Regions from separate parts of the Homo sapiens genome. Here regions 2, 3, 4, 5 and 6 are each reported to be linked to region 1. The links are microRNA targets in miRTarBase. Many come from high-throughput screens and were not tested one by one. Region 1 holds a microRNA gene; each other region holds the end of a gene's coding sequence.
What was found. Region 1 holds the annotated microRNA hsa-miR-424-5p (CAGCAGCAAUUCAUGUUUUGAA, at 2,907-2,928, opposite strand). A microRNA usually pairs through its seed, bases 2 to 8, with sites in the 3' UTR of a target mRNA and lowers its output. Matches are read on the target gene's strand: a 7mer-m8 pairs with bases 2 to 8, a 7mer-A1 pairs with bases 2 to 7 and ends in A, and an 8mer does both.

Region 1 (5,073 bases):
GATTATATATTACCCTTCTATTTGGGACACTTGGGTGGTTTTCAATGCCTAGAGTTTTAAAATGCATATAAATTACAGCCTTTGAGAGATGATTGTATTTTCTTGAAACAGGAGTCTTCTGTGTCCAGGTCCCCGCCAACAGTGTTGATGTAGTGTTCCTTTGTTGGGGGGAAAAAAAATCAGTACTGCTAACTGGAGATGCTGGATGCCTTCAAGAAAAACATTCCTGTGATTTAAATTTTTAAAAAATTATGTTCAATTCTGGTTTATCAAACAACCTGGGTATCTTGTCTCACAACTTACCGAAATGTCGAATTTTAGATTTAGAGTTAGACTAAGCTCTTCCTAGTTTAAGGGCCACGTCTGTCTAATAAACTTTATACAATGCCACGTGCACGCAGCTTCCTCACTAACAAATAACATGTGTTGGGGAAAAAATGAGAAAATAGTGGAAAGGTGCCTCCTTGGAGGTGGTAACATCGGGTCAATTAATCAGCTGAGTATAAATTGATTCACTTTATACAAGTCTCCCACACATTATGATGCACATTTAGCAACGCTGAAAAACAATTTAAAAGAATACCTTAGGGAGTTGTTAAAGAGAATTTATAGTCTGGAACGAATTGCAATCTTCTTAATTGACACAGAAATGTTTGGCTAAAATATTGCTTTATTCACATTTTTGTCCTTGGAGGAAAATCTAGGCACACTGCAACTTGGATCGTGTAAATAAAGGTACAAGGAATGTTTTAAGTCAGAAAAGGGCATCACGCAGTCAGGGGGCTGTGTGGACGAGCTCAATTTCGATGCATCTCGGGAGACCCGGGCAAAAGGCCGCTTGGATTCCGGGAGGCAACGCCCCCAAGTCAGGATCCCTTGCTCGCCGCCCCCAACCGGTCAGGATCCCTGGCTCGCGTCCCCAACCGGTTCCGTGTCTCACCTGGGTCCTGCAGGCGTCCACTGGAGGAAGCCGGATGGCGCGGGCTTGGTCTTTCAGGAAGGCTGGCTGGCACCGGGCTTCCTTCTGGCTCCAGGGGGAACCGTACAGGACGGGGAGAAAGGGGGAAGCTGGTGAGAGGCAGAAGGGGCGTCACAAGGTGGCTCTCCCACCCCCAAGTGCAAAGGCAGGCGGATGCGGGGACCTGTTCGCCGTTTGAGCCTGGAGATTGCGGGCCTGAGGGGCCCTGCGCTGGCCGGCCGGGGCGAGGCGGGAGCAGAATGGGGATTTCTAGGCCGCCGGGTCGGGCTGGTGGGCGGCGCCCCGGGAGCCTGAGGGTCCCCGCCGGCCCGGGAGGGACCCGAGCCGCCCCCGCGCACTGCCCCGGCGCAAGGGAGTCTGGGAGAGCCAGCGTCTCGGGCCGCTGAACCCGACTCCCAGCTCTAGACTTCGGAACCCCGGCCCCACCCCAAACTGGGAAACTTCTAGGGGCCCACTCCTGGCCCCGGGAAGCCCAGTTCCAGGCAGCCCATTCAGACCAGAGGAGTTTGGGTGTCTTTTTTTTTTCTTTAAGGTGACAAAAAGTGTGGGAAAGATTCCACACCTCCCTCCCCACGCCCGCCAATGGTCCTTTACCTGTCCATGTTTCAGATTAAATAATTAGCTCAAGAGATTTGCACAGAAAGCGAATTAGCCCTTTTCTAGTCAGACTGTTAAGCTCTCAGGCGGGCAACTCGGAACCCCGTTTCCTCACCGAAGGCTCAGGAGGCCAGCCCAGTGAGGGATGGAGGTGGCTTTAGAGGGCGACAGTTGTGCAGCACTCATGAGCAACAGTGCCCAGGACTTTTGAAGTCACGAAGGGCTCCTGAAATCGACAGCTCAGGTCCCGCCCCTGGGGCGACAAAGGAGTCTTGGGGGCGTGCCGCCGGGTTGGAATTGTGGTAGCAGATTTTTGGGGGAGGAGGGCGCAAAGCAGCTAGAAACGCACATCCTCATTCTGGAACTATCCCAAGGCCCCCATGCTTCTCAGCAGGCCTCGGGCTCAGATTGGGCGGGTTGGAGCCTTCCACCCCACCTTGGGTTCACCCGCCCGCAAGGCCTCGCGCCTCACCCGATCCTTCTAGAGTGCTGGAGCTCCACGGAGCCTCCCTAACCCCCCAGCAGCGGGGAAGGGAGGGCGAGGGAGTGGGGAAGAGGCCCGTTATTTTGATCTTTCCTGAATTCTTAAGTCCCTTCCATACCCAGGACATGAGCGCGTTTACCAGGAACCGCAGAGAGGTGTAAAGACTTCTTGCAGCTGCTCACCCTTCCTCTCCCCTTACTCCTTTTCCAGTCCTCCCCACCCCCCAGCATTTCGTGGGTGGGGACTGAAGATAGGTTTTCTTCGTTGTCCTGTGGGTGGTATTCTGATTGGGAAGGGATTTTTTTCAATTGTTTACATTCTACCTGAGCAGGGAAAGGGGGTGCCAAAATGAAGCATCATTCACGTCCAGTCACATATGCAGAGACGGGGCAAACGTTTGATGCAATCTTGGGTCTCGCTGCTCCCGGGGCCGACACCGCAGGCGATGGCCTAAGACTTACCTGCTGGGTAGGCCCGAACGGCAGTCCCAGACTTACCCTGGCAGCGGAAACAATACCCCAGAGCACCGATCGCTCACTGCAGAACTGTTCCCGCTGCTAGGGCACGGCTGAGCGCGGGCACCGCGTCTCTCCTCGACTCGCACCGCCTATGCGCCCCAGCCTAGCCAGGAATACTGCCCTCCCCGGACTACAGCCCTGCTGCGTGGACAAGGGCGAGGACCCGCCGGAAACAGAGACGCGAGCCCCCGCCCACCTACCTGCTCCTGAGCCGGCCTCGCGGGGAGCGGGCACCTGGTGGCAGGAACACGCGTCCGGCAGACCCCACCTTCTACCTTCCCCACGAGGGGGTATAGCAGCGCCTCACGTTTTGAACCATTTAGAACACTTCAAAACATGAATTGCTGCTGTATCCCCTCGGAGTCAATGAAGGGGGATCGATCTGGGGGTACCTGCGGGTGAATAAAGACTGGATGACTGAAGGAAGCCCCGCCCCACCCCCTGGCAAGGAATAGGGCAAAACTTATGACTAGGCCACTTCACTCCAAGTTAAGGTACTTCTTATAACTTCACCATTTGATTTCCAGGAGCTGCAGGTGGAGCCGAAAGTGTGGCTCTCAATTTTTTCCCCTGAGGATGAATCTTGGAACAACGTAGTGGGTGAAAAGCAGAGCGATGGGGGATACGAATTAGTGTGGAAGAGAATCTAATTACTTCTGAAGGTAGACGAATAAGGTTAAGTAGAGGCAATTGGACATCTGGATCATTCTTGCCAGTTTCAAAGTCTTGGTGAAACTTCTTCCTGCTGCATATTACAAGTCTCATTCATTGTCCCCATTAAAAAAAAACAAAAAACGAAACAAAAAAACAACCTTTATTGGAAATGGACTCAGATGACTGAAAGAAAATAACCAAAACCTCACCGGTAGCTTCAGCTGATTCTTACACTATCGTTGCGACATATACATCTATCTTTAAAAGCATTAGATGTCCTAACTCACTGCTAGTGTTTTTATTCTTAAACACCCCAGCTGAGTTATTTTAAAGAGCTCCAAACAATGACAGAGAACTTTCTGTAGATGAAATACCAGTTTACATATTAAACTGGTTACTCAAACTTATTTATAATTTATACCTATCAATGTCATCTATCAAAACATAAATCAAAAAGTTTAAATACTTGATGTCAAGTCGCTCCTTCCTGTTTCAAGCAGCTCCACAGAAACTTTCATGTCCTGAAATGGCCGGCACTGCGCATACTCCTTAATGATTAACTCATTAGATACCACTTTTTCCTTTTTAAAATGGACACATATTAGCAACAAGTCACATGCATGCCCTCTTTTTGTTTGAATACAATATTCAATTAAGCATTAAAAAAAAAACCCACTCTGAAATCCTCAATCACAAACCTAAAAGTTAAAACAACAAAATCAGCACTAACTGTAATGGTTTTGAAAGTTAAATACATTTCAGCACAAGTAATAGACATTTAAATTATCCAACTGTAAGTATCTTGTTACACTTACAAATTAAGTCGGTTTTTCAAAACCAGTACAATGAATGTTAAGTGTCCTATTTATTAGTTAATAAAATGTGCAGAGTATTTAATAAGATTAAGTATCGAATTTATAACATCCAGACTGAGATCCAGTGGTAACAAATACACTATGTCATGGTAAAAAAAAAAAGTCATTAGTAACAATAACCCCATTCCCTAAATTGCGACAATCAAGTATCTCTACATTCCATCTTGTTTTGGCAATGATATTTACAAACAACTTTTACACTGACTTTGGGATTAATGGAGAAAAATGTCGTTGACTGCCCTTAAAAAGAAAAAAAAAACATGTTTAGCAAATGTACAATTATCATGTAAAACTCCACAACTTTCTCCCAACATTTTGTTCCACACAAATATACGAGCCATCATGTCAGAAGTTAAAGTCATGCCTAATTTAACATTTCCTTAGTTGACTACTTAGAAAAACAAAAGTTCATTCGAAACAGCATCGGTGTCAAAGGCGAAGGTCCCTTCCAGATTGCTCTTGGAATCAAATTCATTTATACCTTTCACCCTAACCCCTTTCATCTCTCCCAGTGATAGTACAACGAGTTACACCCCTAAAAAGCCACCTCGATCCCCTAGTTTACATATTTCCCCTTAGACTGAAATTTACTTACGAAAAGAGATTACAAAGGGGCGTCTTGTCACTTCAGGAGAGGGTCATTCACTGATACAATAGACAAAGAATCGATACTTTCGAGTTGCCATAGCCCCACCCCCTTCTGAACTGCAATGTGTTTGGCTAAATGATTTAAGAGCCAAAGAATACGCCTCTTCCTCTGTTCATACTCTACAACGTTTTGTCTTTTAATTTTGCATATGCCTTCGTCCCCCACACCCCAAACACACGATGTACCTTCTCTCGGCGCATTCTAGCCAAACTTCCACAATGTCAAGTCCCTACGGGGAAAACTAAACAACCTTTAAAGTTTTAATTCGGGAGAGACAATGTGAAATTAATCACACATTTCTTTCCAAGACATAACTA
Region 2 (5,073 bases), not on the chromosome of region 1:
AGTCTAAATGTGGGTAAGAGGTGTGGGTAACAGGTGTGGAAAAATGAAAACAGTTGATTGATTAGGGCAGTGGCATTGTGGATTATTTCTTGTCTTTCTCTTTTCTTTTTTCTTCTTTTCTTTTCTTTGAGATGGGATCTTGCTACATTGCCCAGGCTGGTCTCGAACTCCTGGGCTCAAGCTACCCTCCCACCTTGGCCTCCCAGAGTGCTAGGATTACAGGCATGAGCCACAACACATGGCCAATTATTTCTTTTCTGGTTTGATTTCCATTAATGCTGCTATATTTATGTAATAAACTAAAACTATAATAAAATGTTACTTTGGATAAGAACAGAAGGACAAAGAGAAAGTAAATGCCCTCTGAGGCCACGCTACTTTTAGGATATACGTGGAATTTGTCTGGCTTGATGTTGAAAACGTTCTGTGGTTTTATATTAAGGGAACCTTGTTTCTCCTCACAGATTGAAGCCTGCAATAAAGAAGCAGAGAAGATTGAGTCCCTTATCAACTCTGACAGCCCGACTTTGGCGTCCCATGTCCCTCTCTCTGCCCTCATCATTTCCCAGGTACAGGTCTCCAGCAGTGTGCCATCGGCCGGTGTCAGGGCCAGGCCTTCTTGCCACTCCCTCCTCCTTCCCCTCAGCTTGGGCCTTGCCTTGCACTTGCTCTGGACATATAACTGACTGCCCACGGAAAGTGCAGAATGCTCCTCCACCTCACTCTCCTGCCTTGAAAAAGACATTCAGGACTGCTGGTTTGTAGTTGAATATTGGCCAAGGAAAGGCACATGTCACCTCTATTCGCCACACAGTATTTTTTTTTTTAATCCGCCAATATTAGTAGGATTTTTGTTTTGTTTTTACAAATGTTAAAATGTGTTGTTCCAAATACTAATGAAAACAGAATGTCTCTTCCTGGTAGACCACTGCCATATGATTTACATTTCCTCACCATAAGGGTCCCCCACTCTAAAGCAAATTTATCGCTGGGAAATGAGATGACCACTTTTTAGAAAGATAATTCACTGTACTATCAGGTTCACAAACTTCATTTCAGAGTTCTTTTTGAAGTATTTAAGGTTCCCGTTGCATTTGTTTTGTTTACAGATAATTACCTACTCTGGCTAGAAGCTAGGGGTCCCAGTGAAGAGCCACTGCCATTAAAGAATATGAAACATAGATAAAACATCTTTGAAATTATGTAAATTATGTAAATTATCAGGCAAATTTGCATTAAATTACAGAAATTTAATTCAGAACCCCAACTACTGTGTTATGCAAAAGCAAGCTGATTAAATGACACTCATATAATTATATGTTGTAAGCAACAGGCTCACTGGTCACGGATTTGTGTCTGTGACTTTTGTGAAAGGGAGAAGTGACATTGCATCAAAGCATCTTGCATTATGCAATTTTTATATTAACCAGATATATATTCATCGGTATTCATCCAAGTTAAATGTAGAGTTTTTAAACATCAATCTTTAAACCAATTGCTGCTACTTATATAATTGCCAAAAAGTGAAATAATGTGTAGTTCATGTAAATAATACATTATATTTCTATTTTATTATGAAGAAGGTGAATAGCCATATTTGTAAAATGACAATCATGTGTGTTAACCCAGTGCTTTCCATTCGTGAAAACACATTTGCTTTTTGTGATATGCACAATGTAGATAAGTGTTCTGTCTGACTTTCTTTTTTGATATAGAAGTATAAAGAATTGTGGTTTATATATTTAAAAGTGTCAAGCTGAGTATTAAAATGTATGCATGTTGTCTAAGAAATTGAATACTTTGAATGTGTTTCACAGTTTGAAATAAGCTATTTGATGTAATACTTCTTGTGTGTATGCACATGAACTTAGATTTTACATGAAGTATTTTTTCAGTATTATATGTACCCTCTGAAATACATAGGGATATGCGTATTATACCAAAATGTTGCTGAAAAATGGGCACTTAAAGCTTTCAGAATATGTCAGTGCTGATGTAGCATGCTTGTTGCAATTGCCTTTTTTCTGTATAAATGTCTTTAATGCAATATACTGGAAAGCTTTTCTATTTTAATAAAAATAATTTTTATATGATCATGCATGCTTCTAAGCAATGTTGACATTCAAAAAGGAAACCACTGATCACCCTTAGGTGAGCTGTGTCCTTTGCTCGGGGATAAGAAGTCATGGAAATTAGCCGGGTATGGTGGCACATGTCTGTGGTCCCATCTACTTGGGAGGCTGAGGCTGGAGAATCGCTTGAACCTGGGAGGTGGAGGTTACAGTGAGCTGAGATCACACCACTGTACCCCAACCTGTCTCATACCTGAGACAGAGTGAGACCCTGTCTCAAAAAAAAAAAAAAGAAGTCATGGAGTGCTATTATCCCAAGCCAAGGGCCCTGGGAGAACAGGCCAGCTAGGACACAGTTGGTCAGACCAGAGGGCAGGCAGTGACAGAGAGTCAAATACAAAGACCCCAGCTTTCAGCCTTAAGGACAGAGAGAGCTTCAGGCCTTCCAAGACTGCATACTAGGCAGTTCTCCCCACTGTGCTGGTCCTGATGTTCCAGTTCCAGGGTACACCTGGGGCAGGGAGACCATGGGAATATGGAGATGGAGGGCTGCTGATGGGACCAGAGAAGTGGTACCAATCAGCTTAGGCTAAGTCCCCAAAACTTCAGTGGCTTACAACAGAGGCTTCTATTTTGTTCCCTTCACATGTCCATTGTGGGTCAGCTGCCACACCTGATACTATCTTCACTCCAGACCCATTCCAGCGTCCTCACAAAGGGCAGAAAAGAGACATAGAGGACCACAAGCTGGCCCTGAATTCTCTGCTTGGAAGTGATGCTGTCATTTCTTTCTACGTTTTACTAACCAAAGCAAGTCACATGGCCACTCCAGAGTTCAAAGGGTGGGGACATACAGTCCTCCCACGGTGTTTTGTGTGTGTTGGGGGAGGGACAGTAAGTATTTTGAATAACACTGTCTACCATAGACATCTTTTCTCATCAGGCTAGGACAATAGCCAGGACTGACAAGATTTTTTATTAGAGAAGTAGATGTTTCCAGCCTGGTCAACATAGCAAGAACCCATCTCAAAGAAAATGCAAGGCGTTTAATAGGACAGGTTGGAGAAGGTGATCAAATGGTACAGGCAACCTGCCATGGGAGGTGTGAGTTGGGGGAGGGAGCATCTAACAAGGGGGAAGACGCAAGCCCTCGAAAAGAGGGTTGGTTTGCACCAGGCCTGGAAGAAACCAGGAGACTTTGCCAGATGGCTTTGAGAAAGGCATTCTAAGTAGGAGGTACAGCTTGAGCAAAGGTGCAGAAACGACAGAGTCCAGGTCCGTTCCAGGGGTAGAACAGCAGGGCTGACATGTTGTGAGGGGCGTGGTGTGGGGAAGTATAAGGCAGATCCGATGTGCCCAGCTTGAATGCCAGGCCACAGTGGCATCCTAAGCCTCTGCCCTTGCCCTTCCAGCTACACTGACCAGCCTGGATAGCTCTAGCCTGCAAAGGATTGTGTGCCCCAAACTTCAGTGCCACGAGACCTTCAAGACCATCCACTGATCTTGTTACTAGGCAGTGCTTCCCTCTGTCCTGTGAGCACCCTGGACTCTCCTGAGGAAATAATAACTGAGCAGGCTGGGGGCCAGGGTTCCCTTAGGCCTGGTCCCCACCCTTAGAGTTCAGCCAGGGTCTCTTTCAGCTCCACTGTGGGAGGAAACTTAAACCCACCAGGAACACTGATCGTCACTGAAGAAACTGCACTTTCCTTCGTTTGATTCAATGCTTCTCTTTCAGCCTTGGGCTGATGGGAGTCAGGCCCACACACTCCCACAGAGGGTGCTCTAATTCTCAGAGGGACAGGAGGCCCCGCTGCAGGGGCCTTTCCTTCCCTGCCTCCCAGCTGCAGAAGAGGCTTGAGTTGTGCACTTTGCAAGCTGAGAGAAAGTGAAGGCAGAGGCGTCATTCCCAGGGATGAGCCAGTCCTTCCAGCAGTCCAGCAATCTTGGGGCTGGAGGGCAGATTTCCACGGTGCACACAGAGAGAAACCAAGAGTACAGGGACCAAGCTGTGGTTACACAGGGAGTCAGGGTGAAGCCACGGCCAGAGGCCAGGTCCAGGCTTTCCCTGGCACAAGGCAGCCAGGCAGGATTTGTACTTCTCAGAAATGGAACTGGCCATAAAGGAGGTTGCCATGAAGGTAGATGCCAGAAGGTGAGCAGAGTGAAACAGTTCCAAGGCCAGGTGAGCCTGGGTGGGTCTGAGCAAACAGGTTCAAGGAGCATCAGGAATCATAAAAAGTAACTGACACAGTTCGCCAGCTCACTTTCTAGGGCAGTTTAGGGAGTGCTTTTCACCATGTTGTCTCCCGGCCCAAAGCAAAACGCCTCACACAGAGAGCAAATGCCAAGTCTAAGGTTGAGTTTCATTCTAGAGCCCAGCCTCAGGGCATTAGGCTGATGGTGGAGAGGGTAGGGAAGGAAGCCTCACAGGGTGAACACTCTGTCCCCTGGCTCCACCCACTTTTCCATTATTCCAAAATGAAGTTCACTGTATTGTTTTTTCCTTGTAAAAGTTACGTGTGCACCTTCCCCCAAGTACTTGGAAATATAAATAAAGGAAAAAAAATCCCATACCTTCCTCTCCCTGCCTCTACAAATAAGTGCAGAATCCTTCTAGAGCCTTCTCTGTACATATCTATCTCTCTCTGTAATCAGGGCAAGGTACCTCCTCTGTCTGCAATGGGGAGGAGGTGGTTACCTCACTGCCCTGTGCGGGGAAATTGAGGGAAACGGTTTCATATTTGGGATGTTGTCTACTGGGCGGTACATCCTTGCCTAAAGGTTCATAGGTGGAAGCCCTATCTTGGCCAACACCCACCAGGTAATCAGGGGGTGGGTCTTTTCCTAAAGACCACCTCCTCTGTCTTCTCCAGACCAATCTCCCACTGAACTCTACTGCAAATGCAACCAGTTGCTTTGCCAAACAGAAGTGTAACCACTTAGGCAGGGCGCGATGGCTCATGCCTGTAATCCCAGCACTTTGGGAGGCTGAGGCAGGCAG
Region 3 (5,073 bases), not on the chromosome of region 1:
CCCCAAAAAACCAGAAAAACCCACAGTGGTGCTGTGAAATGCCCAGCTAGTTAAGAAGCACAAAGAAAAATATTTCAATAAAGGGTCATTTGACAACCGGTGGGAAAAAAAAAATTAGCCAGGTGTCGTGGTGTGCGCCTGTAGTCCCAGCTACTTCGGAGGCTGAGGCAGGGGAACTGCTTGAATCCGGGAGGCCAGGGTTGCAGTGAGCCGAGATTGCACCACTGTATTCCAGCCTGGCAACAGAGCGAGACTCTGTCAAAAACAAAAAAGAAAAGAAAAGAAAGAGACAAGGAAGAAAAGAGAGAGAAGAAGAAAAAAAAGAAAAATTAGCTGGGTGTGGTGGCGTAGTCCCAGCTACTCCAGAGGCTGAGGTGGGAGGATTGCCTGAGCCCAGGAGCTCGAGGCTGCAGTGAACTGTAATCAAGCCACTGCACTCCAGCCTGGGTGATAGAGAGACTCTAGTTGAAAGAAAGAAAGGAAAGAAAGGAAGAAAGGAAGGGAAGGAGGGAGGGAAAGAAAAGAAAGAAAGAAAAAGGAAAGAAGGAAGGAAGAAAGAAAAGAAAGAAAAAGAGAAAGAAAGAAAAAAAAAAGAAATTAGCTGTGCATGGTGCCTGAGCCTGTGGTCCAACCTGCTTGGGAGGCTGAGGTAGGAGGATTGCTTGAGTCTGGGAGTTCGAGGCTACATGGCTACACTGAGCCATGATTGCACTGAAAACTCTTGGCCTCAAGTGATCCTCCCACCTCAGCCTCCTAAATTTTTGGGGTTACAGGCATGAACCATGGCACCCAGCACATTTAGCATTTTCTACGTGCCAGCACTCTGCTAGGTTTGTTGTAAGGATTACATGTGTAATCTCAATCCTTACAACAAACCTAAAAGGCAGGGACTATTATTGTCCCCAGTATACGGTTGGGGAAACAGGCCCAGAGAGGTCAAGTGACTCACTCAAGGATGCATAGCAAGAAAACGAAAGTAGACCTGGTTGTTTCCCTCCCTCCAGAATATGTTCTTCTTCTTCTTCTTCTTCTTCTTTTTTTGAGACAGAGTCTTCCTCTGTAGCCCAGGCTGGAGTGCAGTGACACCATCTCGGCTCACTGCAACCTCTGCCTCCTGAGTTCAAGTGATTCTCCTGCCTCAGCCTTCGGATAGCTGGGATTACAGGCGCCTGCCACCTTGCCTAGCTAATTTTTGTATTTTTAGTAGAGATGGGGTTTCACCATGTTGATCAGGCTGGTCTCGAACTCCTGACCTCAGGTGAGCTGCCCACCTCAGCCTTCCAAAGTGCTGGGATTACAGGCATGAGCCACCATGCCCGGCCCAGAATATGTGCTTCTTACCTGACTTCTGCAGCTGGCCTTTGTCACTCAGCATCATGTTTCTGGTACCGAATTATCTGTGTGGCCTGTGTGTGTAGTTCTGTCTGGCTCCGGCCTTTTATCCTCTGGGGAGGACCCATCTGGGAGGATGGGCATGTAGGCTGTGCTGTTTGCAGTTTGTGCCAATTTAGTACAAGCCAGCAGCAAACACCTTTCTGGAGTCTCCTGCAGCAGGCTTGGGGTTCCCTGCTGGAACCTGCTGGTCACAGGATGGGTGACCTTTTTAGTTTTCACAGCCATTGTCCAATCAATTAGTCCAGGCCTCACCAATGTTATTTGCTGTGACAAGGTTCAATGCTGCCTTTTCTGATGGGTCCAGTGGGGTCTTGGGGATGGGTGTGTCTTAAGGGGATGTGTCTGTAGTGTGTTTGTTCCAGCCCCATCTTCAGTCCCATCACTTTCAGTCCCCAGCCCCACGGTGGCCGGGCACCGGAAACCCCCAAGAGGCCCGGGCGGGGGCGGGGGTCGGCCAAGCCGCTTCCCGCGGAAGGAAGGGCCCGGCGGTTCCTGCGACAGGATGCGCGGCAAGGCCCCCTCCCCAGGGGCCCGGGACTTCCCTGAGCCTTGCCACGCTCGCGGGGGAGGAACTCCGACGCGGGTGCATTGAGCTACCGCCTGCGGTGTGGGGCTCCAGTGCCCCCACGTCCCCTGGGAGAGTTGGGTGGGTCAGGACTCGGAGTAGGTGGCGCCTTTTAAAAGTCCCCCCACGTGTTCCCAGGAAGGAATCAGGCAGCCGTGGGGGCGAGCTTGGCTGGAGAACGGTGAGAAGCTCTCCTTCACAATCCACACAGGAGAGGAAAGGGGGTGTGGGTTGGGCGGGAGGGGAGCCAAAGCTCCCAGATTCCACCAGCAGACGTTCTGAGGCCGGCTTGCCCCTCCTTCTACCCTGTGGCCACGGGGTCAGTTCCCCTGGGGTCATGGGAAGCCTGCGGCGGCAGAGCCAGCCGTCGGCGGGGCGGGGCGAGCGCTTTCCCGGCGCCTGCCGCCGCCACCACTCCCCGCACCTGCGACTCCTTTGTCTTCCCGACAGGCCCCCTCCCTTCGCCCTGGGGCAACGCCCACAACCCCACTCTTAAACCTACGTGGGGTATATTGAAAGGGCTTTCTCGTTTCGGGGTGGTTATTCTAGAGCTGGGGAGTGACCCAAGAAAATAACTAGGGCTCTAATGGGCATTTTTAAAAACCTAATGCCGGGTGGAGAAGCTGCTTAGAGGCCCATTTCACAGATGAGGAAACTGAGGCTGCACGTCCCTGCCTGAGACACACAACGATTCCTCGAGGAAGATACGGGAACTGGGGACTAAAGAGCCCTTCAAAGCTCACCCGCTCAGCTCCACCTGATACTGTAGGGCCCCGGCCACAGCTGATTCAGTTTGGTCTAGGGGGTGGGGGCGAGATCTACCACCTTTCAAGGCTTCAAAGTGCGTGCAATCGATCCCCAGCTCCGCTTGGGGCAGTGTGTTTAGCACTATTGTCTCAACTCAGAAAGCCCCGATCTCCCTGTCCCGGAGTTGTAGGACAATTTCAAGGGAACCCCCAAATCTGGGGGAGGCGGGGCTCCACCAGTTAGGGAATGCCCGGGCAAGGAAAAGGGGGCCCAACCCTCTCTCGCCCACGTGGTAACCGGTCAGACCGGTTCTTGGGGCCCCAGCGAGCGGCTGCCAGCCCCTGACGCTTTAACCCCGCCCCTCCCCCACCACAGCAGAAAACCAGACAGCACCGGCTTTTTTACTCAAATGGTTTTTATTTTCCTATCTGACATTTCTAACAAAACGCCAGGTAGACGGAGTTAAAAAGAATCCACCGCACGAAAGGTAAACAAAGCAGACCCTCAGAAACTCCCTGGCAAGGATGTTCCCCTCCCCAGATTGGCCCAGTTTCACCAGCAACTGGTCTCAGCTCAGCCTTATGCCTTTCCACTGACACCCCCCACCCCTCCACATTCTCGTGATTCAGACCAGGAACTTCTCGGCTGATTGTGTCCGTGTGTCTGAGGGAGGGGCACGCTGGAACCTGGGAACCTACTGGGCACCTCTAATGCAGATGAGAAAAACTTGAGAATGTGAAAGTAGATCAGTCCCCGCTCCCACCCGAAGGTGCAGAGACGCGGGACATTAACCAGCAGCACGCGGGGGTGAAGTAACTCAGGCCACTCTCCTCCCCACTGCCCAGGGCGGGTGCACGCCCCAGGACCTCCTCCCAGGCCCCACACCCACGCAAGGCGACAGGAAGCTCCCCACGCCTGCCCCATGACGCAACGATGACCGCTTATACAAGTATGTCAGCGGAGGGGGAAGGGGAGTGCCTGGAATTCTCCGAGGTTGGAAACGCAAAACCAACTCTTGAAAAACCTTGAAAGGGCCAGCACAGCCCACAGTACAAAATGAAGTCCGACCCTGAGGAGATCTTTAAAAACAAACAAACAAACAAAACAAAAAACACAACACCCAAGCCTCCCTTCTCCCAGTCCAGAAGGAGAGCGAAAGGTTCACGTCCCAGTCCACTAAGACAGCACCTGTGGGCGCAGGTCTCTGCGGAAGGCGCCCGCGCCCCCGGCTCAGACTCCTCGGTGCCGTCCCTGCACACTGAAGGCGATGGCTCCCCGGGGACAGAGTCCCTCTCCGGGCCTCTCAGCAGCCCGGGCGGCGGCTTCTCTCCACGGTTTTCGCGGGCGCTTCCCCCAGGATGGAGGGGGGTGGCCTCGCCTCAGGTCTGCGCCCTCGGGCCGACGGTTCGACGCGCGCTCTGGGCTCCGGCAGCGCCGCTCGGGGTCCTCAGAAGGCCACCACGGCCCGCACGAGCACGTTGAGCATGCTGTCCGCCGGGCGGCAAGCGGGCTTTGCCTCGCACGCGGGCGGCGCCGTCGGAGGGGCCGCGGGGCTGCAGTTCAGGAGGCCGGAGAAGCGCCTCTGCAGGACGCGGGCCAGGTTGGGAAAGGCGCCCTCCGCTTGCGCCGGAGGGGGCTGCAGGCGATCGGCGACTTCGGATGACGCTCCCTCCTCTTCTTCCTTTTCTTCCAGACGGGCTTTCTTGCTCGGGACCAGTCCAGCGTCCCCGCCGTCGCTCAGGCTGCTGCTGCGTCGTTTGCGGCTGACTTTGGCGGGGCGCGGGGCACAGCAGGCGGAGGTCTCCTCGGCTGTCGGCGCCTCCTGCGTGTCCATTGGCTCCGGAAACGGGTGCTCACCGTCGGGGGTCGCTGTCTCGGCCGTGGACTCGGCTTCTCGGGGCGGGTGCAGGCGAGGGTCAGAGGGGAGGGCGGCCGGCAACGACACCTCGGGCTCGAGGGCCTCCACCTTGGCCGAGAGGTAGAGCTCCCGGGCGCTGCGCATGACCAGCGACAGCTGCAGACTCCGGTGCAGCCGCAGGCCACCGCGCTGCATGCGGGAGTGATACATCTTCCACACCGACAGGGTCATGATGCGCTGTGCCTCTTTCTGCACTTCCATGGCGACTCGACGGCGACAGCGGCGGGGGCTCCCGGGAGGGACAGAACAGGCAGCAGGTGCACTCCGGACAACGGGCTCGCTCACGCCTCTCTACACAAACCAACCCACGCAGTGACACTGCTAGGACGCTCTGCCCAGGCGCCCGCCACCCAGGCCCTTTTATACCCCCAGTGACGTCACTGAGACACCCCGCCCAACCGAAGGACGCATCCGGGCTTTCCAACTCGTCGCGGCCAAACACTCCTTA
Region 4 (5,073 bases), not on the chromosome of region 1:
GCCCATGTGTGTGCCTGCCTGCGGTCTCCAGGGGTGCCTGGCCCACGCGTGTGCCCGCCTGCGGTCTCTGGGGGTGCCCGGCCCACATATGTGCCTGCCTGCGGTCTCCAGGTGTGCCCGGCCCATGCGTGTGCCCACCTGCGAGGGCGTGGGGTGGGCTTGGTCATTTCTTATCTTACATTGGAGACAGGAGAGCTTGAAAAGTCACATTTTGGAATCCTAAATCTGCAAGAATGCCAGGGACATTTCAGAGGGGGACATTGAGCCAGAGAGGAGGGGTGGTGTCCCCAGATCACACAGAGGGCAGTGGTGGGACAGCTCAGGGTAAGCAGCTCATAGTGGGGGGCCCAGGTTCGGTGCCGGTACTGCAGCCAGGCTGTGGAGCCGCGGGCCTCCTTCCTGCGGTGGGCCGTGGGGCTGACTCCCTCTCCCTTTCTCCTCAAAGAAGGAGGACCCCTCAGCCGTGCCTGTGTTCTCTGTGGACTATGGGGAGCTGGATTTCCAGTGGCGAGAGAAGACCCCGGAGCCCCCCGTGCCCTGTGTCCCTGAGCAGACGGAGTATGCCACCATTGTCTTTCCTAGCGGAATGGGCACCTCATCCCCCGCCCGCAGGGGCTCAGCTGACGGCCCTCGGAGTGCCCAGCCACTGAGGCCTGAGGATGGACACTGCTCTTGGCCCCTCTGACCGGCTTCCTTGGCCACCAGTGTTCTGCAGACCCTCCACCATGAGCCCGGGTCAGCGCATTTCCTCAGGAGAAGCAGGCAGGGTGCAGGCCATTGCAGGCCGTCCAGGGGCTGAGCTGCCTGGGGGCGACCGGGGCTCCAGCCTGCACCTGCACCAGGCACAGCCCCACCACAGGACTCATGTCTCAATGCCCACAGTGAGCCCAGGCAGCAGGTGTCACCGTCCCCTACAGGGAGGGCCAGATGCAGTCACTGCTTCAGGTCCTGCCAGCACAGAGCTGCCTGCGTCCAGCTCCCTGAATCTCTGCTGCTGCTGCTGCTGCTGCTGCTGCTGCCTGCGGCCCGGGGCTGAAGGCGCCGTGGCCCTGCCTGACGCCCCGGAGCCTCCTGCCTGAACTTGGGGGCTGGTTGGAGATGGCCTTGGAGCAGCCAAGGTGCCCCTGGCAGTGGCATCCCGAAACGCCCTGGACGCAGGGCCCAAGACTGGGCACAGGAGTGGGAGGTACATGGGGCTGGGGACTCCCCAGGAGTTATCTGCTCCCTGCAGGCCTAGAGAAGTTTCAGGGAAGGTCAGAAGAGCTCCTGGCTGTGGTGGGCAGGGCAGGAAACCCCTCCACCTTTACACATGCCCAGGCAGCACCTCAGGCCCTTTGTGGGGCAGGGAAGCTGAGGCAGTAAGCGGGCAGGCAGAGCTGGAGGCCTTTCAGGCCCAGCCAGCACTCTGGCCTCCTGCCGCCGCATTCCACCCCAGCCCCTCACACCACTCGGGAGAGGGACATCCTACGGTCCCAAGGTCAGGAGGGCAGGGCTGGGGTTGACTCAGGCCCCTCCCAGCTGTGGCCACCTGGGTGTTGGGAGGGCAGAAGTGCAGGCACCTAGGGCCCCCCATGTGCCCACCCTGGGAGCTCTCCTTGGAACCCATTCCTGAAATTATTTAAAGGGGTTGGCCGGGCTCCCACCAGGGCCTGGGTGGGAAGGTACAGGCGTTCCCCCGGGGCCTAGTACCCCCGCCGTGGCCTATCCACTCCTCACATCCACACACTGCACCCCCACTCCTGGGGCAGGGCCACCAGCATCCAGGCGGCCAGCAGGCACCTGAGTGGCTGGGACAAGGGATCCCCCTTCCCTGTGGTTCTATTATATTATAATTATAATTAAATATGAGAGCATGCTAAGGAGTTCTGTCCTGTCTGGTGGCTGTGGGGGCAGTGGGCAGGAGGGAGGGAGGCCTCCAGGGAGGGACAAGGCGGCAGCCAGGCTGAGGCTGTGTGTGGAGGGTGCTGGTGGCTCCCCTGGATCCTGGCCTGAGTCAGGCCTTCCCCTCGCTGTCCCAGAAACACACAGGCCCTCCTCGCCCTGTTTGCCCCACTCACATGTAGAGCCCTCCGGTGAAAAATTCCTCCAACATCACGGGGCTGGGGACACCATCTTCCCCAAGCCCAGGCCTTTTAGGGGGGTCCCACGGCCCCCTGGCCCCAGGCTTCCTGGCCAGGCATGGGTGTCCCTGAGTGACTGTGCCTGCTCCATAGCCCCCGTGTCCCCATGCCTACCAGTCCCTCCGGGCAGGGGTGGTACCTGGTGCCAGGGCGTCCACAGCGGGGTGGGAGGGCTGCCCTGGGCTATGAGGGACACAGCATCTGCGGGTCCCTCCCTAAGTACACAGGGTGGGGGCAGCGGGGGAGGCGGGGTCACGTCTGCTGGAGCCCTATCACCCTGCTGCGGTCCTTGGCAGCTAGCAGCAGGGACGGTGCAGGGAAAGGAGCCCTGCCAGGCCCTCGGGCACCGCAGCCAAACACCCACTGACACCCCGGGGCTCATTCTCTGCTTGCCATCCTGGAGCCCAGTCCTGGACCCCATGCCTGTGTCAGGGACAGGCACAGAGACCTCGCAGCTCTGGGAACTCCCGGTGAGATCCGGCAGATCAGGCCTGGCAGGGAACGCTGCCCGGGGGCTCTGCACATGATGTGGGTTTCCATCCGCAAAACCCGATAGGTCCCATGGAAAATGACCACAGGCAATGAGAAAGCCATAGAGTGCTGCCTGTGAGATCAGCGTCCAGAACTCACAGCTCTCAAACACCCACTCACAGCGCAGCGCGCCAGCGTCCAGAATTCACGGCTCTCATTCATCCATTGACAGCGCAGCGCGCCAGCATCCAGAACTCAAGGCTCTCAAACACCCATTCACAGCGCAGCGCGCCAGCATCCAGAACTCACGGCTCTCATTCATCCACTGACAGCGCAGCGCGCCAGCATCCAGAACTCAAGGCTCTCAAACACCCATTCACAGCACAGCGCGCCAGCATCCAGAACTCACGGCTCTCATTCATCCATTGACAGCGCAGCGCACCAGCATCCAGAACTCAAGGCTCTCATACACCCATTCACAGCGCAGCGCGCCAGCATCCAGAACTCAAGGCTTTCATTCATCCATTGACAGCGCAGCGCGCCAGCATCCAGAACTCACGTCTCTCATTCATCCACTGACAGCGCAGCGCGCCAGCATCCAGAACTCAAGGCTCTCAAACACCCATTCACAGCGCAGCGCGCCAGCATCCAGAACTCAAGGCTCTCATTCATCCATTGACAGCGCAGCGCGCCAGCGTCCAGAACTCACGTCTCTCATTCATCCACTGACAGCGCGGCGCGCCAGCATCCAGAACTCAAGGCTCTCAAACACCCATTCACAGCGCAGCGCGCCAGCATCCAGAACTCAAGGCTTTCATTCATCCATTGACAGCGCAGCGCGCCAGCATCCAGAACTCAAGGCTCTCAAACACCCATTCACAGCGCAGCGCGCCAGCATCCAGAACTCAAGGCTCTCAAACACCCATTCACAGCGCAGCGCGCCAGCATCCAGAACTCAAGGCTCTCATTCATCCATTGTCAGCGCAGCGCGCCAGCATCCAGAACTCAAGGCTCTCAAACACCCATTCACAGCGCAGCGCGCCAGCATCCAGAACTCAAGGCTCTCATACACCCATTCACAGCGCAGCGCGCCAGCATCCAGAACTCACGTCTCTCATTCATCCACTGACAGCGCAGCGCGCCAGCATCCAGAACTCAAGGCTCTCATTCATCCATTGACAGCGCAGCGCGCCAGCATCCAGAACTCAAGGCTCTCAAACACCCATTCACAGCGCAGCGCGCCAGCATCCAGAACTCACGGCTCTCATTCATCCATTGACAGCGCAGCGCGCTAGCATCCAGAACTCACGTCTCTCATTCATCCACTGACAGCGCAGCGCGCCAGCATCCAGAACTCAAGGCTCTCAAACACCCATTCACAGCGCAGCGCGCCAGCATCCAGAACTCACGGCTCTCATTCATCCATTGACAGCGCAGCGCACCAGCATCCAGAACTCAAGGCTCTCATACACCCATTCACAGCGCAGCGCGCCAGCATCCAGAACTCAAGGCTTTCATTCATCCATTGACAGCGCAGCGCGCCAGCGTCCAGAACTCACGTCTCTCATTCATCCACTGACAGCGCAGCACGCCAGCATCCAGAACTCAAGGCTCTCAAACACCCATTCACAGCGCAGCGCGCCAGCATCCAGAACTCAAGGCTCTCATTCATCCATTGACAGCGCAGCGCGCCAGCGTCCAGAACTCACGTCTCTCATTCATCCACTGACAGCGCAGCACGCCAGCATCCAGAACTCAAGGCTCTCAAACACCCATTCACAGCGCAGCGCGCCAGCATCCAGAACTCAAGGCTTTCATTCATCCATTGACAGCGCTGCGCACCAGCGTCCAGAACTCACGTCTCTCATTCATCCACTGACAGCGCGGCGCGCCAGCATCCAGAACTCAAGGCTCTCATTCATCCATTGTCAGCGCAGCGCGCCAGCATCCAGAACTCAAGGCTCTCAAACACCCATTCACAGCGCAGCGCGCCAGCATCCAGAACTCAAGGCTCTCATACACCCATTCACAGCGCAGCGCGCCAGCATCCAGAACTCACGTCTCTCATTCATCCACTGACAGCGCAGCGCGCCAGCATCCAGAACTCAAGGCTCTCATTCATCCATTGACAGCGCAGCGCGCCAGCATCCAGAACTCAAGGCTCTCAAACACCCATTCACAGCGCAGCGCGCCAGCATCCAGAACTCACGGCTCTCATTCATCCATTGACAGCGCAGGGCGCTAGCATCCAGAACTCACGTCTCTCATTCATCCACTGACAGCGCAGCGCGCCAGCATCCAGAACTCAAGGCTCTCAAACACCCATTCACAGCGCAGCGCGCCAGCATCCAGAACTCACGGCTCTCATTCATCCATTGACAGCGCAGCGCGCTAGCATCCAGAACTCAAGGCTCTCAAACACCCATTCACAGCGCAGCGCGCCAGCGTCCAAAATTCACGGCTCTCATACACCCATTCACCC
Region 5 (5,073 bases), not on the chromosome of region 1:
ACAGTCTGCTCTCCAAAGGAACTATTATAGAAGCGTGGACTAGCAGATCAGCTAATTCTAGAGTCCTCCAGAGTTATAGGTTTAATAACCGCAATGTGGGGCTTTACATTTCACACCTTAGCCACTATTTGACTGCTGCTAATGTCTTTGATTACAGTTAGCTAGGCTGCAAACATTATTTAAGGTCTATACTTACTCTCAGCATATCTATTATAATAAAACATTATTGAGTATACATTGGTTGCTTTGCTTATTATTTTGTGTGGAGATGACACTGATCTAATATTCTGTAAATTATTTACAAGTGACAAGTGAGGTCTGTTCTAATTTGAGGCTGAAAACCATGATCATGACTTCATACTGTGCTCTAGTCAAAAATCCACCTATAGCTTACCATTAGCTAGCATTTCTAAGTGCATTCCACATTCAGTGATCTTCTTTCAAGGCTTTTTTTTTGTTTTTTGTTTTTAAATAGTATCTCACTCTGATGCCTGGGCTGGAGGGCAATGGTGCAGTCACAGCTCACTGCAGCCTCACCTCTGGTGCTCAGGCGATTCTTCCACCTCAGGAGCTGGGACTACAGGCACAGGCCACAACATCTGGCTAGTTTTTTGTAGGGACGGGGTTTCTCCATGCATGCTACCCAAGCTGGTCTCCTGAGCTCAAGCAATCCACCCAGCTCGGCCTCCCAAAGTGTTGGGATTACAGGCATGAGCCACCGCACCTGGCTCCCAAAATACGTATGTTCTAATAGAACGACTTAAATAGGAAAAAAAATTGAAGAAGATAAAAAATAAAGTCATGATTACAACAGAAAAGCATAACCATACAAGTGAACTACAATTTGGCCTAGAGCTGCCCAAAAGACAAAGAGGAGCAACAAAGAGAGCATTAGACTCTTTAAGATGAAAACGAATCCCAAATGCCCATCAAGGATAGACTGGATAAAGAAAACGTGGCACATATACACCATGGAATACTATGCAGCCATAAAAAAGGGATGAGTTCATGTTCTTTGCAGGGACATGGATGAAGCTGGAAACCATAATTCTCAGCAAACTAACACAGGAACAGAAAACCAAACACTGCATGTTCTCACTCATAAGTGGGAGTTGAACAATGAGAACACATGGACACAGGGAGTGGAACATGACACACTGGGGCCTGTCAGGGGGTGGGAGGCTAGCGGAGGGATAGCATTAGGAGAAATACCTAATGTAGATGACGGGTTGATGGGTGCAGCAAACCACCATGGCACGTGTATACCTATGTAACAAACCTGGATGTTCTGCACGTGTATCCCAGATCTTAAAGTATAATAAAAATAAAATTAGGGAAAACCACTAAATAGAAAAAAGAGAGAAAAACAAATTAGGCTGGTCACAATGGCTCACACCTGTAATCCCAGCACTTTAGGAGGCTGAGGCGGGTGGATCACCTGAGGTCAGGAGTTTAAGACTAGCCTGACCAATATGGTGAAAGCCTGTCTCTATTAAAAATACAAAAATTAGCCTGGTGTGGTGATGTGCACCTGTAGTCCCAGCGACTCGGGAGGCTGAGACAGAATTGCTTGAACCCGGGAGGCGGAGGCTGCAGTGAGCCGAAATTGCGCCACTGCACTCCAGCCTGGGTGACAGAGCGACTTTGTCCCAAAACAAACAAACAAACAAAACAAAAACCACACAACCCTCCCCTGAAACTCAACTGTTTAGGAGAAGCACATGTTTTGCTGAGATCAAGACCCAAGAGAAGTTTCTCCTATGGGTCTTCATAAAAGGTACACTATGTGATATATTTAATAGTAGCCATTAGCCTTAAAAACACATGTATTGAAAATATATGTTTTGATGACTGTGTTTGCTATTAGGAGCCAACAGCATAGAAACAAAGCATAATGCAGTAACAGTAATTCTATGAAGAGCCAAAATGTGGATCAAATATGTAGCTCTCTGAAGATTTCCTAGAGGATAAAATTTAGATTCTTCTGCTAGTTGGGAAAACAGACTTGTTTTATCATAATCCCCAAACTCATGTGTTCCTATAAGTAATAAAATCCATTTCAAAACCAAATTATTTTTATATCTAAAGCCACTGTTCCCTTTTAATATCACAGACTGAACTAGACTACATAGATAATTTATCTAAGCATGGTTTTCTAAATAAATGTGCTGTAAATGGCTAATCTCGATGTAGTAGATACATTTTAAAATGCTGTTTTATGGTTGTACTAACTATATGTAAACTTATTTCTAAAAGGTTAAAAGATTATCCACAAAAATGTTATTTCAGTTACATTCAATTTTTAGAATTATTAGTATAGGTTATGTTAAAGTGCATTGCACCTATTCACAAAGACTTTCAAAAAATGATCAGCAATATAAAGTGTAAACCTAAAAAGAAAATCAGACTCATTCTACATCTGTGAAATTCAGCACTTAAATATAATTCAATTTACAATAATTGTAAAAGATAGGGAGAATATAGAAAATGGAGGGGGAAAATGGTATTCAACATATGAACAACACAGCTACTGTTGTAGTGAAAAAATAATTTATTAAATGAACATAATACTGGGAGTAAAATGCATTATAAAAGTAAAAAAAAGTAAATTATAAATATAAATAATAGTGGTTTACCTAATTAACAGATTTTTTTCTTCATCCTTGAAGAACTTTAAATACAATCTTCCAAAAAGCCAGATTGAAAAAGTGGCTGGTTCGCTTTAGAACAGACAGGCAACACTATAATATCTAGAATTTGGCAAAGATCTGTTATATAAGATACAGAATGGTACTGATTAAATGATTGTTCTTTTTAAGCCTTTTGTAAGTCTAGAATAATAATTTTAATAAATAAGCAGATCAATTTATTATATTCATTTCTGTCTCTAAGGATAGCAAACATATTTCTGATACACATTGTGAAAAATGTTCTGAGAACATACCTGTGCACTTTGACAGACTAAAAATTTTTGGTTATTTGGTAAAAAGTGATCTCCTTTTTACTTCAAAGGTTAACAACAGCCATTGAATGTGTTGATATATGTCATTAGAATTTTAAACAGCCACACCTTAATATATATATACATCAAGATACCGATAAACTTTTAGATAGTAAAGAAAAAAATGGAGATTGTTATTCTATTTCCCCAGTAAGTTTCCCTCAGTTTTTAGAAAGCATACCGACTGGGATTGCAAAATGCCAGCATGATTACAATGCTTATTAACAGCAATATGCAAAACAGTGAAAATAGAAAATAAATAACTTCATCCTATAAAAATGAAACAAGGCACTTTTAATGACTGTACACAAAGCTGAAATAAACAAACATTTTTTCATAAAGCTGACTCAAAGACCCTAGGAGACTTTTGTAGAAAGTGAAATAGTAAAGGCACTACATAATTCTTTCTCCTAACTCTACTTACTAAAAAAATCCACCAATTAAACTTGGCACAAAAGAGTTTAATTATCATAAAGTGCATCACTTGGCTAAATATATTAAAAAGAAAATCAGCCATAATACAGTATAACAACATCTTCACACAAATAGAAATAAAAATGCAATGTCAGGAGTCAAGCCAGTTAGGAACTTTGCAGTATATATGGCTTTTTATTTTCTTTTTTGTATAAGCCCCTATTTATTTAGAATCTATATTTTCGAAAGAATATGCCTTAACAAAAGGAGGTAGTATTCTGAAAGAGGCAAACTCACTAAATCTAGGTAGAGATAAAGATTACGTGGAAACTAAACAAATGTAACATATTAATAACTGTGACACTTATTAAAGTATTTTGATATTAATGAATCAGCTTTTAAAATCAAGGCTATCTTATCACTTTAGCTATATGATTACAGCTCTTTCAAGTAGTTTTCCTTTGGTACTAGAAAGTCATTTTTCTAAAGAGCATTAACATTTCAAATAAGCAAATTTTATTTAGAGATGTAAACATGTAAACATTAAAAACTCAACTAAATTTTATCTTTATTATGATGGTCACTGATTTAAACTATTAATGAAAATATGTCATGTCAGAGATATAAAGAAGAATATATCACCCAGATAGTAACATGCAATTAATTTCCATTTGATTAATATAATTGGTGATTTAACACACATACATATATACACAGTAGTTTGGAGCAATATATAGGCAAAACACCATAATAATTTATGCACAGTATTTAAGAATGTGGGCCTTGATAACAGAATTCCAACAAGATTTTTTTTAGTGTATTAAATGTAATTGGATAAAATACAATTAAAAGCAGCAGTGAATATATTTCCTATCTCAATAACTTAAAAAAACTTCTTTATGTAAACTTTATACATGTGCATTCTTGCTCTTTTCTATATGTTTTACAGTTCTTGGTTCTTCTTTTAAAATAGTATTTGCCACTCTTCTAAATTTTTGAATAGTCTAAATGGAGGGAACTGCTTGTGATACATTAGTCTTCTTCAGCATCATATGCCACTTCTGCTACTTCTATCTCTGATACAGCATTTTCAGGTTCACTAAAACTTAAGCATGGTTTATTATCAGCTCTGCAAAAAAAAAAAAAAAAGGAACATATCAATGATGGGACTGGATGCATGCTATTATTTCATTTTCACTATTACCTTTAAAAATCTTCTACCTTATAGAAAATTTACATACTTAGTGTAAAAGTATTTAATGTAAGAGTATTTAAACATTCAATCAGAAATTTGATATATTTAAGTTGTCATTGCCAAGTAAGACCTTTGGAGATAGGTTTTTAAACTCAGCTCTCCAAACTACCATTTACCAATAAAAATCTACTTGGTAATTACCTTTATCAACATAAAATTTTTCTCAGAATTATAGTTGACCATTACCACTAAACTATTAACAATTACCTTGGATTTGTATGCAATAAAAATTCTATGTGCTTTTAAATTCATTACCTTTTCATCATTCCTATTAGGTAAGAAGGGTGGTTTGCTATTATATTATAGTAGCCTACTTTTTCAATGGAAAAAGGGTGATATTGAGGGAGATTAAGGTAATCTGTCAATATTTAAAAAATTAGTTAATTACCTGAGTCAGAGGCCA
Region 6 (5,073 bases), not on the chromosome of region 1:
AAATAACTTGGAAAAACTACTGGACTGGATGGTCTCTTAAGATTGCAAGTGCCAAGCCTTGGCACTCTAGGACCCATCCCTTTTAACAGTAGCATCTATTTTTAGACTAGACAAGGATACCTAAGCTGTATTACAAATATAGTTCCAGACACATCATGGTACTCTACATCTAGTCCGGTTCCTGATACCTTTAACCAATGCTCTGGCCTGGCCATTCCTGCAGTGCCTGTCCTTCTCCTTTGGCTTATGCTATCCTCAGCAGCACATGCATTATTTGTAAGCCTCCCTTACCCATTTGATACTACCCAATCAAGACTCTAGTATAAATGTTCTGTCCCTTCAAGAAACCTTCCCCAGTTGGCCATTTTCCCAAAGTACATTTTCCACTCTTATGGTTCAGTACACTTTGCTTTGTCTGGTAGTTTTATGTGTAAAGCTCAGAGGACTGGATCTTGGGTTTCTTTATAGTAAACCATCCAAATGCCTTGCATTGTACTATACTGAAGGTAACATGGATCCAAGTCATATGGCTTAAAAATTCTTTTCTCTTTCAGGATCGAATCATCAATTTAGTTGTTGGCAGCTTAACATCCTTATTGATTCTAGTAAGTATCCTCATTTTGTGCCTCACCCAGGCTCTTAGCCAGTTTTGAAAACTTTATCAATTATGGTTAACTTTCCAAAAAAAGCTAAATAAGTGCTTTTAATTTTATTACCACAAAATTGCAGTTGCTAATTGGAGTAGCTAATTTAATTCTGCCCCACCCCCAGGTTGAATATGTGAAATGGTACAAGTCAGACAACTTCGTTTTAAGATAATTGAGTTTACCATGTTTTGCCTAGTAAATTTGTAAAAATGTCAGTGGCTAGTAGCCACTTCCTTCTGTCATCTACCATAATTCCCCATTTCTATTTTGTTCCTGAAGAACATATCCATTACCCTTTGGTCAAGTTTTAAAAGATTTGGTCACAGTGTATAGTAGTTGTACTGTATACATCCTGTATACAGTATACATCTGGGAGCTATTACAATAAAATTTTTAAAAGCTGTATTTTCCATAGTTTGACATTTTTCTGGCACATTAAATTTAAGAGAATTTTTTTCCATGGCTTCTTAATGAAAAGATTGCATATAATGCTGCATCTGTTAGAAACAGAACTATACAACATTAGAAGTCTTTCAGTGTGTTTCATAATGTTATAGCAAAACCAGCTTTGATTATATTCATTTTGCTAGAAATATTTAAAATAACAAAATGGCTAGAACTTTTACCAGCAGAATCATTAATCCTGGGAGTGAGGTTTAGTTAATGAAGTTATTTTGGCATCAGCTAGTATTACTGATGTTTTCTCTCCTTTCATAAGTAAGGGAAAGTTTAGAAAAGAAGTACTAAAATAACTCGAACATATTTATAATTACTGTATTAACATTCTAGAAAGCAAACTTGGTGGCAGATGTAATTTTATAACATGAAGCATTTTGTAGTACTGTTGCCTAGACTCCAGTTGGTAATTACCAAGTCTTGGAATTACTGTTAAGGCCTTACATAATTTCTCTTCATACAGGTAACGCTGATAAGTGCTTTTGTTTTCCCTCAACTACCTCCAAAACCGTTGAATATATTCTTTGCTGTCTGCATCTCTTTGAGTAGTATTACTGCCTGCATACTTGTAAGTACTGTTGAGAATTTAAACAGTGTTCTTGAGGGTTTAAGTTGCAATGCACAGGACAAAAATTTTCAGCCTTGGGTCTATACAAAAGGGTATCTCTTAATTATATCCTCATCCTCCCCCTAAAAGTATGTTAGAATTCTCAATAAAATCTGAGTCTTCTCCTTTTCTCCTAAATCCCAAAGTTGTAACCCCAAAGAGAAATTCCACTCCCTTGATAGCTTAAAAAAAAAAAAAAAAAAAAAAAAAAAATTAGTGGAAAGACGTAGGTGGCCAAAGATTTTAATTTACTTAATTCATCTTCACTCAAGGACTACGTAAGGGCCAACAGTCTTTGGGAAATGCCAGTTACTGCTAAGGGAAGAGATAGAGCACTCTGGATTTAATTCTAATTATTACAAAATTAGTTTAATCTACATGTTTGTTTCCCAAAATGGAGGTATTAACACCAAAACCTCCTGGGAAATCTAAAGCTGCAGTTGTTGTAAAAATGTTTGATTTACTGCAAATGTTTCTTTTATGGTGAAGAAACAAAGATGGTGGTGGCTCCTCAGTGTTCATTCATTAGTTGGCTACATTGTTTCATGTTCCTTTAGAGGCAGAATCAAAAGAAAAAACAATAGTAATTTGCTTATCTGAGTTAAAATTAATTAAACCAGGAGACACCTCCAAGTGTTCTCATTCACTGATCCTGCTATATACTCCCATGACCCGAAGAAGAACTAGCCCATCCCACTTTGGGAGCTTTCCTGTTCCCCTAGCTTGAAGCCTAAAGTGACTAACAGACAATGAACTAGTTTAATCCAAATATATTATGGAAGCCCTATTTTACGGTCTGAACCAACTGTATGAATCATGAGTCTAAATGTTGTCTTCCTTTCCTGTTAAGTAGTATGCCCAGGTATATGTTCTTGGATAGCTTGCCAGATGACTGGTGGAGTATACAGGTGTGAATATAGAGGAAAGTAAACTGAGAAAGTAGGAATAAGTATGATCTTGGATGTGGAAACTCAGAGTAAGAATTAAATTCTGGCTGTACTGATCTCAGGAATGTAGAGACCTCAGAATATGGAGAATGTCTGTCTCATTTAGGGGAATAAACAAATACTAATGAAATTTGAAATTGGTAGAGAAAATGTTATATTTCAAATTTTAATTTATAAACTTTAATTCTTCTTTTAGATCTACTGGTATCGACAAGGAGACTTAGAACCGAAATTTAGAAAGCTAATTTACTATATCATATTTTCTATCATCATGTTGTGTATATGTGCAAACCTGTACTTCCATGATGTGGGAAGGTGAGGCTGCCAAGGAGAAGTACTTACCAGGACTCTTCAAAATGATACATTAGGACAGTGAGTAATTTTTGGATAAGGTATGCTGAAGAATCTCCTGCAGAAGTCTGATACATGATTTTCATGTTAATTGTAAATGTTAATTCCCTCTTGCAAGGGAGACATATCCTAGATCACTTTGCTTTTTCTTTAAGGAGCTGATGTTGCACCTAAACATTCCAACCCTTAAAGCTAAAACAGCACAAAAAAATTTCACTTTTGAAATGAAATTTTTATAATTGTATGGCAAAAGGCTATGTAAAAACAAATCTTGCATCTTAAGACAAATATTCTTTTATTTCTGTTAAACTGAATATACAATTGTTCCCTAGGCAACCAACTTTTGCTTATAACTACAATTTAATTTCACGTTGACAAAACACAGTGAAAAGACAACTTTGTGAAGATCTAATTACAATAATAAATAAAATAATTTATACAAGGGTTTTTTTTTCTTGACTTTTCTATAGGGGTCATATTCATTAAAAAGCCCAAAAGGCTACCTTTGCCTTAACCCTTCTGTAGTACAGGAATGATTCTTAGATTTGTTTCCTTTTGTTATAGAAGCAAATATTGTTTTTTTAAAATAGCCTGAGATGAGAGGTTATATTGTACCCCACCAGCTAACACACTAAGTGGATGACAAACTATTCTCTCGGTAATTTATATAGCAAAACATCTAATAAATGGTCATGGTATCAAGGATAGGTAACATTACTTCCTTCCTCATTTAGTTTTACTTCAAAGTGCTAACTTTGTAAACTAATGACAGTGGTTTCTGAGGGGGTGAAAACTGCTTAGATTCTGGTGGGTTTTGTTACTATGCTTATCCATATTCCCTTTAAAAGTAACAAAAAACCTGTAGTGAATTTTAACTTTTAATGCTTTCCTGTTTACCCTGCCTAAATCAGCTCCCACTGCCAGCAATGGGTTAACCAAATGTACCACCACAAGACCACCTCCTAGGTCTCTATACTTGTATGCTGGTCAAGTCTCAAACTTAGTCTTCTTGAAGATCAGAAGATCACTGGTAAGCTCTAGACCATGTTGAAGACCATGTTGAAAAGACTCATCTGAACTACAACCAGGCTTGAGAGGAGACAGTGCCATGTCTGATCTTTAGAGAAACTGTACTTTAAACCACAGCAGTTAAGCTTTCGTGATTCTAAACTTTTCTTAGTGGCTGAAGTGAATGAAATTCCTTATTCCCATGTAACACTAAACAGGGATTTATGCTTAAAACTCCCAGCCTCCACTCAACTACATACTGTCATAAAACTCAACCTCAGATGATGTGTTTAAAGGAGGTAAAAAGTCATAGCAGCAACAATGTGTGTGGCTTAAGGACTGTGGCTATTTAAATTGGTAAATTAAGCCTCTTGGGGGTTGCTCCTATTTCTTTGAAGAGGTTGTAATTAACAGTGTGCCTTCTTTGCTTGAACTGCCTATTTCTAAGAATTATTCTAATGACAGTTTACCAAATCTTCGACATCCTTTGAATCTTCTGAAACAGGACTGCCCAAGGATGATCCAATGATATTTGATTCTTCCTGATGATGTTGGAGTATGGGATCTGTAATGAGTTTCAAGTTAGTCTTAAATGTATATATTTATTCTCTAATCCATGTCAAGAATTTAAGGTATTCTACCACAGTGTAGAACTCAACAGGACTAGTAGCTTATTGGATCAAGAAAGACTGAAACAAGTTAATTAAATGTCTGTTTTTTTCCATCTAAAATTTATCAGGCACATAGTAAGTATTATATTACAGTACCTGTTAGTGTTGTCAAAGGCAAGACAGATTCAGTATCTATAACATCAGATGCCTGGATAAAGCCATGTGGTGAAGGAACGATAAGTATTGTTTCATCATCAATTGTTTGATCAACTTGTTCTTCTATAGTGGGAGACTCTAAACCCTAAATAACATTAAAAAAAAAATATTGACTCATATTCTTACTAGTCTTCCTTAAAATCCCATGTATAGGTATGTATAGGTTAGACTTAAACATAACCCATTTAAAAATCAGAATATAAAATAAAAAGTTAAGGTCTCACAGGGAC

Region 2: the mRNA of RECK is a reported target of hsa-miR-424-5p. Seed matches in the 3' UTR shown: 8mer at 1,497-1,504.
Region 3: miRTarBase lists IER2 as a target of hsa-miR-424-5p. Seed matches in the 3' UTR shown: 7mer-m8 at 3,501-3,507.
Region 4: miRTarBase lists PDCD1 as a target of hsa-miR-424-5p. Seed matches in the 3' UTR shown: 7mer-m8 at 990-996, 7mer-m8 at 993-999, 7mer-m8 at 996-1,002, 7mer-m8 at 999-1,005, 7mer-m8 at 1,002-1,008, 7mer-m8 at 1,005-1,011 and 2 more.
Region 5: the mRNA of SNX16 is a reported target of hsa-miR-424-5p. Seed matches in the 3' UTR shown: 7mer-m8 at 4,266-4,272.
Region 6: miRTarBase lists DMTF1 as a target of hsa-miR-424-5p. Seed matches in the 3' UTR shown: 8mer at 4,327-4,334.

Annotation. Positions count from the first base shown.
Region 1 is chrX:134,543,774-134,548,846 of GRCh38, forward strand. MIR424 (microRNA 424) reads right to left here and starts at 2,938; the gene lies at 2,841-2,938. It overlaps MIR503HG (MIR503 host gene), which reads right to left and starts at 2,857. Exons shown (of 3, transcript NR_024607.1): 1 at 2,779-2,857; 2 at 941-1,024; 3 at 1-226. MIR503 (microRNA 503) reads right to left here and starts at 2,625; the gene lies at 2,555-2,625.
Region 2 is chr9:36,122,360-36,127,432 of GRCh38, forward strand. RECK (reversion inducing cysteine rich protein with kazal motifs) reads left to right here. Exons shown (of 21, transcript NM_021111.3): 21 at 465-2,096. The coding sequence ends at 686. Among named protein-coding and RNA genes, the nearest start is that of GLIPR2, 12 kb to the right of the region's middle.
Region 3 is chr19:13,152,940-13,158,012 of GRCh38, reverse strand. IER2 (immediate early response 2) reads right to left here. Exons shown (of 2, transcript NM_004907.3): 2 at 3,102-5,069. The coding sequence starts at 4,826. The coding sequence ends at 4,155. It also overlaps the pseudogene RPL12P42. Among named protein-coding and RNA genes, the nearest start is that of IER2, 5.1 kb to the right of the region's middle. RefSeq lists enhancers at 341-450, 788-877, 1,178-1,327, 3,838-3,927, 3,988-4,871 and 1 more and silencers at 1,688-1,957, 2,168-2,487, 4,098-4,207.
Region 4 is chr2:241,846,670-241,851,742 of GRCh38, reverse strand. It overlaps PDCD1 (programmed cell death 1), which reads left to right. Exons shown (of 5, transcript NM_005018.3): 5 at 446-1,859. The coding sequence ends at 685. Among named protein-coding and RNA genes, the nearest start is that of PDCD1, 9.7 kb to the left of the region's middle.
Region 5 is chr8:81,797,050-81,802,122 of GRCh38, forward strand. SNX16 (sorting nexin 16) reads right to left here. Exons shown (of 8, transcript NM_152836.3): 8 at 2,534-4,544. The coding sequence ends at 4,448. Among named protein-coding and RNA genes, the nearest start is that of SNX16, 43 kb to the right of the region's middle.
Region 6 is chr7:87,194,539-87,199,611 of GRCh38, reverse strand. It overlaps DMTF1 (cyclin D binding myb like transcription factor 1), which reads right to left. Exons shown (of 18, transcript NM_001142327.2): 17 at 4,784-4,928; 18 at 3,287-4,581. The coding sequence ends at 4,472. TMEM243 (transmembrane protein 243) reads left to right here. Exons shown (of 4, transcript NM_024315.4): 2 at 555-605; 3 at 1,567-1,671; 4 at 2,854-3,452. The coding sequence ends at 2,976. LOC105375384 (a long non-coding RNA gene) reads right to left here and starts at 1,894. Exons shown (of 2, transcript XR_927722.3): 1 at 1-1,894.